Linked DNA regions of Homo sapiens. The protein of the gene in region 1 interacts with the protein of each later gene in a pairwise test. Each region holds a gene or a part of one and is shown in the gene's direction. Other genes may lie near its edges.

Evidence for each region.
Region 2: the proteins of TMEM70 (region 1) and LPAR3 interact in binary tests that used the Homo sapiens proteins (3 or more experiments, as listed by UniProt).
Region 3: the proteins of TMEM70 (region 1) and BDKRB2 interact in a two-hybrid assay, tested with the Homo sapiens proteins (one large-scale study listed by BioGRID and IntAct).

Annotation. Positions count from the first base shown.
Region 1 is NC_000008.11:73,974,955-73,979,080, forward strand, and holds the start of TMEM70 (transmembrane protein 70, mitochondrial), read left to right. Parts: upstream 1-1,240; 5' UTR 1,241-1,327; coding exon 1,328-1,537; intron 1,538-3,801; coding exon 3,802-3,907; coding exon of another isoform or gene 3,908-3,915; exon of another isoform or gene 3,916-3,921; intron 3,922-4,124; exon of another isoform or gene 4,125-4,126. UniProt on the Homo sapiens protein: Scaffold protein that participates in the c-ring assembly of mitochondrial ATP synthase (F(1)F(0) ATP synthase or complex V) by facilitating the membrane insertion and oligomer formation of the subunit c/ATP5MC1 through its interaction.
Region 2 is NC_000001.11:84,816,706-84,820,354, reverse strand, and holds part of LPAR3 (lysophosphatidic acid receptor 3), read left to right. Parts: intron 1-3,649. UniProt on the Homo sapiens protein: Receptor for lysophosphatidic acid (LPA), a mediator of diverse cellular activities. May play a role in the development of ovarian cancer. Seems to be coupled to the G(i)/G(o) and G(q) families of heteromeric G proteins.
Region 3 is NC_000014.9:96,239,275-96,242,923, forward strand, and holds part of BDKRB2 (B2 bradykinin receptor), read left to right. Parts: intron 1-1,128; coding exon 1,129-2,230; 3' UTR 2,231-3,649. UniProt on the Homo sapiens protein: Receptor for bradykinin. It is associated with G proteins that activate a phosphatidylinositol-calcium second messenger system.

The DNA of each region.
Region 1 (4,126 bases):
GAGCTCCCGCCCCTGGCCACACATTATTTTAGACTATGAATTTGTTCCTCTCCGGTGCAAATAACATGTCAAATCAAAAACATGTATAGTTCTGCAGTGGTAAACAAAAGTGTGTTTCTATTACTAAGATGCTCATCCTTCAAGACTGAGCTAAATGTGAAGCCAGTCTGAAGACATTCTGAGGCAAAATTAATCATGTTCTTCTTTGTACTTCTGTGGCATTTGTTTGTTCTTTTTTTTGAGACACGGTGTCACTTTGTGGTCCAGGCTGGAGTGCAGTAGTGTGGTCTTGGCTCACTGAAGCCTCGACTTTGGGCTCAAGCAATCCTACCATGTCAGCCTCCTGGGTAGCTGGGACCACAGGCACACACTTACCATGTGTGGCTTATTTTTGTTTTAGGTTTTTTTTTTTTTTTTTTTTTTGTAGAGACGGGGTCTCCCTGTATTGCTCAGGCTGGTCTCAAACTCCTGGCCTCAAGAGATCTTCCTGCCTAAACCTCCCAAAGCGCTGGGATTACAGGTGTAAGCCACCACGGCCAGCCACATTTTGTATATTGCGGTGTCTCAATTGTATTACATTATATTCTAGCCAATTTTCAGGTATTTTCCTCCACTGTTTAAGCACTGTGGATTCCCAGTTTAATCTAGTATTTTGTATCCTCTGCTCCTAGCTCAGTCCTGGCAATAGATTCAGTACCTCTTTAACAAGTAATGAATCAATGTGTATATGGATGTGAATGATTTCCGAAGACAAATCTGGTAACACCTATCAATATTACATGAACAATTCCATTTATTTTCCTCCAACCCGATGATTCAATTAAGTTATCACTCATTTTTGTTCAAATCGTATATTCTTTCTTCTGTGCCAACAGGCTAGAATCATTTTCCGCAAAGGAAACAGTTTTTAGTGATGTCGTCCACGAGAAAAAAAAATATTTAACCCTGGCTTCTGGGCATTGTCATTCTCGTACAGCCCTCTGCCCCTCCACACTGTTATAAAGAAGGTAAAATTCTAGGAAGGAGGAGCCGCTGAGCCAAGGACAGAGCGGCGGGCTCCCAGCTCAGCTGGCGGATAACGCGCGCGGCCGGGAAGGCGGCAGGCGGGCGGCAGGCGGGCGGCAGGCGGGCGGCAGGCGGGCGGCAGGCGGGCGGCAGGCGGGCGGCAGGCGGGCGGCAGATTCTGCGCACGCGCAGGCAGCCCAGCTGCCAGTCAGGCGTCCCGGGCTGGGCATGCGCCACTTGTGCGGCAGTCGGGTGGGAAGCCGTGTCTCGCAGTCGTGGACTCGTGCAGCTGGGGCGTCCGCAGCCGCTCGTCACCCGCGTGATGCTGTTTCTGGCGTTGGGCAGCCCGTGGGCGGTCGAACTGCCTCTCTGCGGAAGGAGGACTGCATTGTGTGCGGCCGCCGCGCTCCGAGGTCCCCGGGCCTCTGTCTCCCGGGCGTCCTCCAGCAGCGGGCCTTCGGGGCCGGTAGCCGGCTGGAGTACGGGGCCTTCGGGAGCCGCGCGCCTTCTCCGGCGTCCGGGTCGAGCGCAGGTAGGGCGTCCGAGGTCTGGTGTCCCAAGTGAGGCGGGGAGGGCGGGCGTCGTGTCGGGCCTGGGGAGCCCCAGCGGCTCTTCGCGACCTCTCCCAGGTGTCCGTGGCTGGAGCGCGGGAGGAGCCCCCTCTGCGGGGCTTGCAGAAGTAGCAGGCCGAGGGCCCCGGGGTCCTCAGCCTCCGCGAGTCCAGGAGAACGGCTGGAAAGTGCTTACTTTTATGGTAGTTCCAAATCCAGAGGGTTTGTGGTGACAACTATATGTAGTTCCTTTTCTGCCCTTGAGTAGAAGCTTAGAAGTGTTAATTTGCAAAAAATTGGATGCAGCACCTGGAAATAGAACCGAAAGAGCCAGGTTAACCTGACTTTGAGCTTGTTCTACTTTTATGAGGTGGCTGTACTTTTAAGAATTACTTTGGTCCCTGGGAAAAGGGGGATGCAGATGTTAATTCTTTTATTTTGATCTGAATAAATTGTCTTCTAATTCTACTCTGTAAAATATCAGGATTGGCAAACCTGGTTAAAACTTGGAAGAAATGCTTAAAATGGAAATTGGAATCTAATTACATTTCAGCATTGAGGAATTAGGCATGCCTTTTACATTTTGAAGTGTATACACTGTGAAACTCATTTTCAGATGTATGGGGAACGCTTCTGTTCCCTTGAAATTTGATGTAGGATTTCAAGTAAATTTTATTTCTTTTTTTTTGGAGGTGAAGTCTCGCTCTGTCACCCTGGTTGGAGTGCAGTGACGTGATCTTGGCTCACTGCAACCTCCGCCTTCCGGGTTCAAGCGATTCTCCTGCCTCAGCCTCCCCAGTAGTTGGGATTACAGGCGCGCTCCACCACACCCCGGCTGATTTTTTTTTTGTATTTTTAGTAGAGACGGGGTTTCACCGTGTTGGCCAGGCTCGTCTTAAACTCCTGACCTCAAATCATCCTCCTGCCTCGGCCTGTCAAAGGGTTGGGATTACAGGCGTGAGCCGCTGTGCCCAGCCAAATTTTATTTCTTGTCAAGAAATAAGAGGACCAGGGGATACACGGTATTTACAAGGTCTTTAGAGAAAGATTTGATCTCTTTAATACTATCATATAAATATTTTAGCAGTATTTGTAAAAGGCCTGGACTTTAAATATAATGTGAGTTTGCGGAGTATTTTACTTAAATTATTTTAGTAAAATTAAATTTTATTTCTTAGAGATGGGGTCTTGCCATGTTGCCCAGGCTGGCCTTAAACTCCTGGGCTCAAGTGATCCACCTCAGCCTCCCCAGTAGCTGGGGCTATAGACGTGTTCCATTACACCAGCTAAATGTATTTATTTTTTGAAAAGGTGTTGCATTTAAATAGAATGGAAATGATGTCGTCATTAACAGTGGAGTAGAAGAAACTGTTACTATTTTTACTTGTTCAAGGTCACACTAGACCTAGAAACCTGAGAGCTGGGATGCTAAGCTAACAAACTCCAGCTCTGCAGTTTTCTACTTGTGACTAGAATTAAGGCAAGCCATTCTGTCAGCCAATTTATTTCTTTAACTCTGTAGATTATTTGGGAGAATTCCTTATGTCACCTCATGTGACAAGTTCTTTTCATTACAATTTTATTTTATTTTTTTGAGACGGAGTCGTGCTCTGTTGCCCAGGTTGGAGTACAGTGGTGTGATCTCGGACCACTGCAATCTCCGCCTCCCAGGTTCAAGCGATTCTTCTGCCTCAGCCTCCGGAGTAGCTGGATTACAGGCGCCAGACACCATGCCCGGCTAATTGTTTGCATTTTTAGTAGAGACGGGGTTTCACCATGTTGGCCAGGCTGGTCTTGAACTCCTGACCTCAAGTGATCCGCCCCCCTCGGCCTCCCAAAGTGCTGGGATTACAGGCATGAGCCACTGCACCTGCATTACAATTTTAAAAATAAACTTAAGCTGGGCATGGTGGCTCATGCCTGTAATCCCAGCACTTTGGGAGGCCAAGGTGGCAGATCACTTGAGGTCAAGAGTTCAAGACCAGTCTGGCCAACATGGTGAAACCCCGTCTCTAATAAAAATACAGAAATTAGCCGGGTGTGGTGGTGGGCACCTGTAATCCCAGCTACTCAGGAGACTGAGGCAGGAGAATTGCTTGAACCCGGGAAGCAGAGGTTGCAATGGTGAGCTGAGATCGCACCACTGCCCTCCAGTCTGGGAGACAGAGCAAGACTCTGTCTCAAAAAAAAAAACTTAAAAAAATTTAAGAAGGTTAGTTGACCATAATGATCCCTGTTTCAATAGATCCCTGTTTATTGGGAAGGATATGTTCGATTCTTAAATACGCCATCTGACAAATCAGAAGATGGAAGGCTAATTTATACTGGCAATATGGCCCGAGCAGTGTTTGGTAAGTAATTGGAGGTGGGTGTACTTACTTTGTTTTTTTCTCTTTTAATTGTAAAAATATCCTTACCATATCTTACTTGTTGTTATGGCATCCCTTAATTACAAGACGTAAGGAAAATTAGATTTTCATTTTTTTTTCTTGAGGTGTGTTGATAAGATGTAGAGACCTTTGCATTTTTAGATTTTTATTTGAGACAGAGTCTCACTCTGTTGTCCAGGC
Region 2 (3,649 bases), on another chromosome or scaffold:
ATTCACCTGGCTCATCTCCTGTGCTACTGAGTGTGGGCTAGATACTTAGTTCTAAGAATACAAACACATGAGGCACAGCATACCTGCTTAGGGAGCTTAGAACACACCTGAGACACAAGACGTATGTATTAAAAACTACCTCTAGTATAGCTCAATGCTCAAGAGTTTGCATGGGGAAGTCAGGCCTGAGTTCAAATGATAACTTCTATTTTTTGGCTTGTGCACCTAGGACAAACTGTTGAGCTACTCTAAACTTCAAATTTATTGTATGTTAGTCTAGGATAATAATAAAAGTAGCAACTTTGTAAGGCTGTGAGTTTTACAGGGGAAGTGCATGTAAAGCCCTGAGCACACTGCCTGACCCAGAGTTCTCAGGAAATGCTAGAGAGGAATTAAGCAGGTAATGTGCCCAGTGCCACGTGAATGCTATAGGTAGAAAGTGCTACAGGAGTTGAGAGGAGGAAATGGACACTGTGGTGGAAGAGATGGGAGAGCTCCAGTGGAGAAGGCAGAGTATGCACTAAGCTTAGAAAGAAAAGCAGACCTCAGATTAGGAGGTGAGAAGGCATTCCTGGCACGGCGAGCCAAAGAGCAGCAGAGGAGGACTGTGGATGCCTTGCCTGTAGACTACTTTTGCTGCCACTCTTTGTATATTTATTTTTGCGTATGTGCTCAAACATTTTCCCAAATGCAAATTGAAGATATTCATCTCTAGAGATGCTTATTTTCTCATTTGAAAAAACTGTGCTCCCTCTCTCTTTTCCATGGCTTTTTGCTAAGTCTATATGGCATCTATAATTTTGCTTATGGAGTCAGCTTGATTAAACCATTTTGGGTCAGCATGGAGAAATAGGTTACAAAACTGGCTGTGCATCATGATCACCCAGGGAACTTTTTAGTCCTGCAGATTTCTGTGTCCCACCCGAGATTCTGACTATTGGGTCTGATGTGGGACCAGAGAATATGCATTATTTTAAAAGTTCCTTTAATTTTCATTTGGCTTGGTCAAAAGTTTGAAAAACACTGGTAATCTTTAAGGCCCCACCCAGCTCCAGTGATCTGTATTTCCCATAACAGTAACATTTTTATTCTCTCTGCTATTCTCAAGAGAGGGTTACTGTGTTGTCAAGAGAGAAAAACTAAACAAGCCAGACATCAAAAGCTATAGCTACCAACTTTGATGTGAAGAGTCCTTTCTATATGAAATTGTATAATTCCAAAAAATCCAGGTGGGAGTGTTCCAAGGTCCTTATGCTGACGGGAAGGAAGGACAAACACTGGCCAACTTTATACTTTGTTAAACATGTAAGTCGAGATTTAATAGAGTCTACAACTTCCAAACCAGTGGAAGGGGGAAAATGAAACCAAAGGAAATGAAAAAATAAAAGATCTCAATACGAAAAAAGAGAGGGGGAAAAAAGCGAAACATAGAAAAAAATGAAACAAAGAACAAAATAAGATGCTAGAAGTGAATTCCAATATATTGATAACTAAAATCAGTGCAAATCACGGTACAGTTAAAAAACAGATCAATCTAAACAATATGATGTCTAACATTACATCCGTATATTGGAAAACCATGAGAAAAAGCAAGAAGATGATTAGCCCAAAATGTATGATACGTTTATCTCAACAGGAGAGAGGGCTCCTGGGGTGGGCACCCAGGAAGCTCTAAAGATACGATAGTGTTCTTTGAAGTTTCTTTAAGTTCTTTAAGTTGGGTGGTAAGTAGACAGGTATTCTTATTTTTTTTATTCTTTTAAGCATTATTTTTTAAAGTTCACTATATTTTTTGTAGTTTTGTTTGAATAATATAATACACCCCCCTGGCATGCGTGCATCGCACACACACTCAAAAAAGGATAAAAATAAATTGCCAATGTTTTCCTAAAGCCCCACTCTCATATTATTAGATGTGAATTTTTAATGTGATTTTTTGTTCTTTAATGACGTGATTTTTTTGTCATGAAAGTTTTCTCCCCAGCACAAAACTCTGTTTTGAATTAATCTTGTGACCCAACACTCCAAACAAGTCTTCACATTGATGCTTTTTGTCATAATACGATAATTCCTATATAGTTTCCCTTTTCGTTGAATTACATAAAATAATTCATTCAATTAAAACCTTATAAGCTTTTTATTGAGCAATGATCTTGTGTCAGATGCTGTTTTAATCATTGTATATGAATTAATCCATTTAATTTTTATAAAAACCCTTGGGAATGGTACTAATCCTGCCCTCATTTTAAGCCTGAGGTAACTACAGCACAGAGAAGTTAGGTGATGTGGTCAAAGGCACACAGCCGATCAGTGGAAGAGCCAGGATTGGAACCCAGGCAGCCTGGCACCAGAGCCATGTTCCTGACTTTGTGCTAGGCTGCTCAGCTGTGGCCCGTAAAGCATCTTACTACTGAAGAGAGTGAAGGAGGAGTAGGAGGGTACCTCTGGACTTCAAGGGCCCCTCCGTAGTATGTCATGTCTGACCATAAAGCTACATATATCACAATTACATCATTCTTTGGTTGTTAAAGGAAAGATTTTTTTTTTTTTTTGGCCAGGAAAGGAAGAAAGGGAGGGAGAGATGGAAGGAGGGAAGGAATCCAAAGGAATCCAACAAAAATATTGGCTGATTGGCTGGCCGTGGTGTCAGAAGAGAAATAAAAATCTGCTGATCTCATCTTTATGCTGTTTCCAATGAACAACAAAAGGCAAATGTTCTTCGACAGAACAGCACAAACATACTAGGTGGCTAAACTAGAGAACAGGTACTTCAGAGATGTTGCCTTAAGCAGATGCTCCCCGGCAGTGACCCTGGGAAACAGCTGTTCCAAGCCTCCTCCACCTGGAGGCCAAGATCTCTCTCCAAACACATCTCAGAAGAGATGCACAGTTTATCTAACAGTTCATACTTTGAGGGGGTTTGCTCTATGTTAGCAGTTAAACATAAGTCCTCCCCACGCACCTCCACACCCTAGGCTCTGTAGTCTTGGAGAATTCATAGAGAATGTGGAGATGTCAGGAACATTCAAACAGGTAACTGGACTAATTCTTAAAAGTGAGGGGTGTGTGTGTGTGTGTGTGTGTGTGTGTGTGATAGATCCTGGAAAATATTTATCACTTAGTTGCCTACCAATCTACATAAATCCAGAAGAAAAAAACTAAAAGGAATGTCTTTTGAGTATTTAGCCTCAATGCTCAGACTATGACTGCTGGGAACCAGCAGGGTTCAAAGAAGAGTTTGTGTGATGCCCAGATTACTTTAAAAAAAAAATTCTCAGCATTAACAAATATGAATGAGTGTCCAGAGGTACGCATCTGGGAACTAGTAGATAAAATTCAATATGTGTCTCCTGGAGAAAAGGCTAAAGAAAGACAGAAAGCGTTAACTGTCTTCAAAAACCTGAAGGGCATCACATAGAGAAAGCACAGACTTTTCCTGGGCTATTGCAGAGGATCACACAAAACAAATGGAAGAGTACAACAGGCAGAGTTTGGATGCAAGCCTTCTTTTCAAGTAAATGAAGATATTTATATATTTTTTTGCTTTTTACTTTTTTGGAGATGGAGTCTTGCTCTATTGCCCAGGCTGGAGTGCAGTGGCACAATCTCGGTTCACTGCAACTTCGCCTCCTGGGTTCAAACAATCCTC
Region 3 (3,649 bases), on another chromosome or scaffold:
AAAAAGAAATGCAAAGCGATTCAGGATGAGAGCAATACCCTACTCCAAAGAAGGCAAAATAGAAGCTCAGAGAGGTCAAGCATTTTGCCCAAGACCACACAGCTAGGAGTGGAACTCATGGCTGTCCAAGCCCCACGCCTCTGCTGAAGGTAGAGATGAATTACAGCAACAAGTCTAGAAAGGTGCCTGCCCTATGGTCTGTGAGTCTTGCCTAAGAATGAAAGAGGAGCCAGTGGGTTAAAGATGAGGTCACCAACAAACGGTGGTGTTGGAGTTTACCACTGGTTATTTTAATGGGTTTGCAAGAATTGTTAATTACTAATGTTTATTGAGCCTAGTGCAGTGCTTGGGGCATTTTGCACATTGTCTCTGATCCCTATCACAACCCTGAGAGGTAGTTTTTTTAACTCCCATTTTACAGGTGAGGTCATTGTGGTTCAAGGACGTTAAGTAACTTCCCCAGCGTCACACGGCTTATAAGTAAGGCAGCCAGGATGTGAACCCAGTAGGACTATCTGGCTGCAAAGTCCCCACCCTCCCTCGCCATCTGTATCCTCCAATCATCTTCAGTGCTTTGCTGATAGAAGGTACGGAAATACGATGCCACAGACTGTCCAGGAAGACAGAAACTAGGCAGATGGGCTGGCCATGGTCTCCAAGCCAGACTGGAATCTCCAGGTCTGGAATGATATCATTTTTCTCTTTTAATAAATTAACTCACCCACCACACGGCTTTGAGAGGCTCAAAGGTGACCAACTCCCTTGGGAGGGCCCCGGTTGATAAGGAAGGAATGTGAATCCTCCCATCACGGAAGCTTCAAGGAGGTCAAGGGTCCAACACTTGAGATTGTTAGTGCTGTTGGTGGATACTGGCCAAGGAAATATCCCAGTGGAGCCTCGAGATGAAGAACATGAGGCCCCCGTTTAGATCCAAGGATCAGAGGGGGCTCTGTAAGACCCAGGGGAGTCAGGTGCACTGGAGCGCGGGCTGCAGAAAACAGCCTGAGCTCCACCTCGGCTTCTCCTTGCCCTGGCTGGTTGTCCTTAACCCCTGTCTCCTTCTGGACCAGTTTTTGTCCTTCCCTTGTGACCCTGAGGGGTAACAGCCTCTTTTCCACTTTCTTTCAGCGCCGACATGCTCAATGTCACCTTGCAAGGGCCCACTCTTAACGGGACCTTTGCCCAGAGCAAATGCCCCCAAGTGGAGTGGCTGGGCTGGCTCAACACCATCCAGCCCCCCTTCCTCTGGGTGCTGTTCGTGCTGGCCACCCTAGAGAACATCTTTGTCCTCAGCGTCTTCTGCCTGCACAAGAGCAGCTGCACGGTGGCAGAGATCTACCTGGGGAACCTGGCCGCAGCAGACCTGATCCTGGCCTGCGGGCTGCCCTTCTGGGCCATCACCATCTCCAACAACTTCGACTGGCTCTTTGGGGAGACGCTCTGCCGCGTGGTGAATGCCATTATCTCCATGAACCTGTACAGCAGCATCTGTTTCCTGATGCTGGTGAGCATCGACCGCTACCTGGCCCTGGTGAAAACCATGTCCATGGGCCGGATGCGCGGCGTGCGCTGGGCCAAGCTCTACAGCTTGGTGATCTGGGGGTGTACGCTGCTCCTGAGCTCACCCATGCTGGTGTTCCGGACCATGAAGGAGTACAGCGATGAGGGCCACAACGTCACCGCTTGTGTCATCAGCTACCCATCCCTCATCTGGGAAGTGTTCACCAACATGCTCCTGAATGTCGTGGGCTTCCTGCTGCCCCTGAGTGTCATCACCTTCTGCACGATGCAGATCATGCAGGTGCTGCGGAACAACGAGATGCAGAAGTTCAAGGAGATCCAGACAGAGAGGAGGGCCACGGTGCTAGTCCTGGTTGTGCTGCTGCTATTCATCATCTGCTGGCTGCCCTTCCAGATCAGCACCTTCCTGGATACGCTGCATCGCCTCGGCATCCTCTCCAGCTGCCAGGACGAGCGCATCATCGATGTAATCACACAGATCGCCTCCTTCATGGCCTACAGCAACAGCTGCCTCAACCCACTGGTGTACGTGATCGTGGGCAAGCGCTTCCGAAAGAAGTCTTGGGAGGTGTACCAGGGAGTGTGCCAGAAAGGGGGCTGCAGGTCAGAACCCATTCAGATGGAGAACTCCATGGGCACACTGCGGACCTCCATCTCCGTGGAACGCCAGATTCACAAACTGCAGGACTGGGCAGGGAGCAGACAGTGAGCAAACGCCAGCAGGGCTGCTGTGAATTTGTGTAAGGATTGAGGGACAGTTGCTTTTCAGCATGGGCCCAGGAATGCCAAGGAGACATCTATGCACGACCTTGGGAAATGAGTTGATGTCTCCGGTAAAACACCGGAGACTAATTCCTGCCCTGCCCAATTTTGCAGGGAGCATGGCTGTGAGGATGGGGTGAACTCACGCACAGCCAAGGACTCCAAAATCACAACAGCATTACTGTTCTTATTTGCTGCCACACCTGAGCCAGCCTGCTCCTTCCCAGGAGTGGAGGAGGCCTGGGGGCAGGGAGAGGAGTGACTGAGCTTCCCTCCCGTGTGTTCTCCGTCCCTGCCCCAGCAAGACAACTTAGATCTCCAGGAGAACTGCCATCCAGCTTTGGTGCAATGGCTGAGTGCACAAGTGAGTTGTTGCCCTGGGTTTCTTTAATCTATTCAGCTAGAACTTTGAAGGACAATTTCTTGCATTAATAAAGGTTAAGCCCTGAGGGGTCCCTGATAACAACCTGGAGACCAGGATTTTATGGCTCCCCTCACTGATGGACAAGGAGGTCTGTGCCAAAGAAGAATCCAATAAGCACATATTGAGCACTTGCTGTATATGCAGTATTGAGCACTGTAGGCAAGAGGGAAGAAAGAGAAGGAGCCATCTCCATCTTGAAGGAACTCAAAGACTCAAGTGGGAACGACTGGGCACTGCCACCACCAGAAAGCTGTTCGACGAGACGGTCGAGCAGGGTGCTGTGGGTGATATGGACAGCAGAAGGGGGAGACCAAGGTTCCAGCTCAACCAATAACTATTGCACAACCATCTGTCCCTGCCTCAGTTCCCTCTTCTGTAACATGAAGTCGTTGTGAGGGTTAAAGGCAGTAACAGGTATAAAGTACTTAGAAAAGCAAAGGGTGCTACGTACATGTGAGGCATCATTACGCAGACGTAACTGGGATATGTTTACTATAAGGAAAAGACACTGAGGTCTAGAAATAGCTCCGTGGAGCAGAATCAGTATTGGGAGCCGGTGGCGGTGTGAAGCACCAGTGTCTGGCACACAGTAGGTGCTCATTGGCTCCCTTCCACCTGTCATTCCCACCACCCTGAGGCCCCAACCGCCACACACACAGGAGCATTTGGAGAGAAGGCCATGTCTTCAAAGTCTGATTTGTGATGAGGCAGAGGAAGATATTTCTAATCGGTCTTGCCCAGAGGATCACAGTGCTGAGACCCCCCACCACCAGCCGGTACCTGGGAAGGGGGAGAGTGCAGGCCTGCTCAGGGACTGTTCCTGTCTCAGCAACCAAGGGATTGTTCCTGTCAATCAATGGTTTATTGGAAGGTGGCCCAGTATGAGCCCTAGAAGAGTGTGAAAAGGAATGGCAATGGTGTTCACCATCGGCAGTGCCAGGG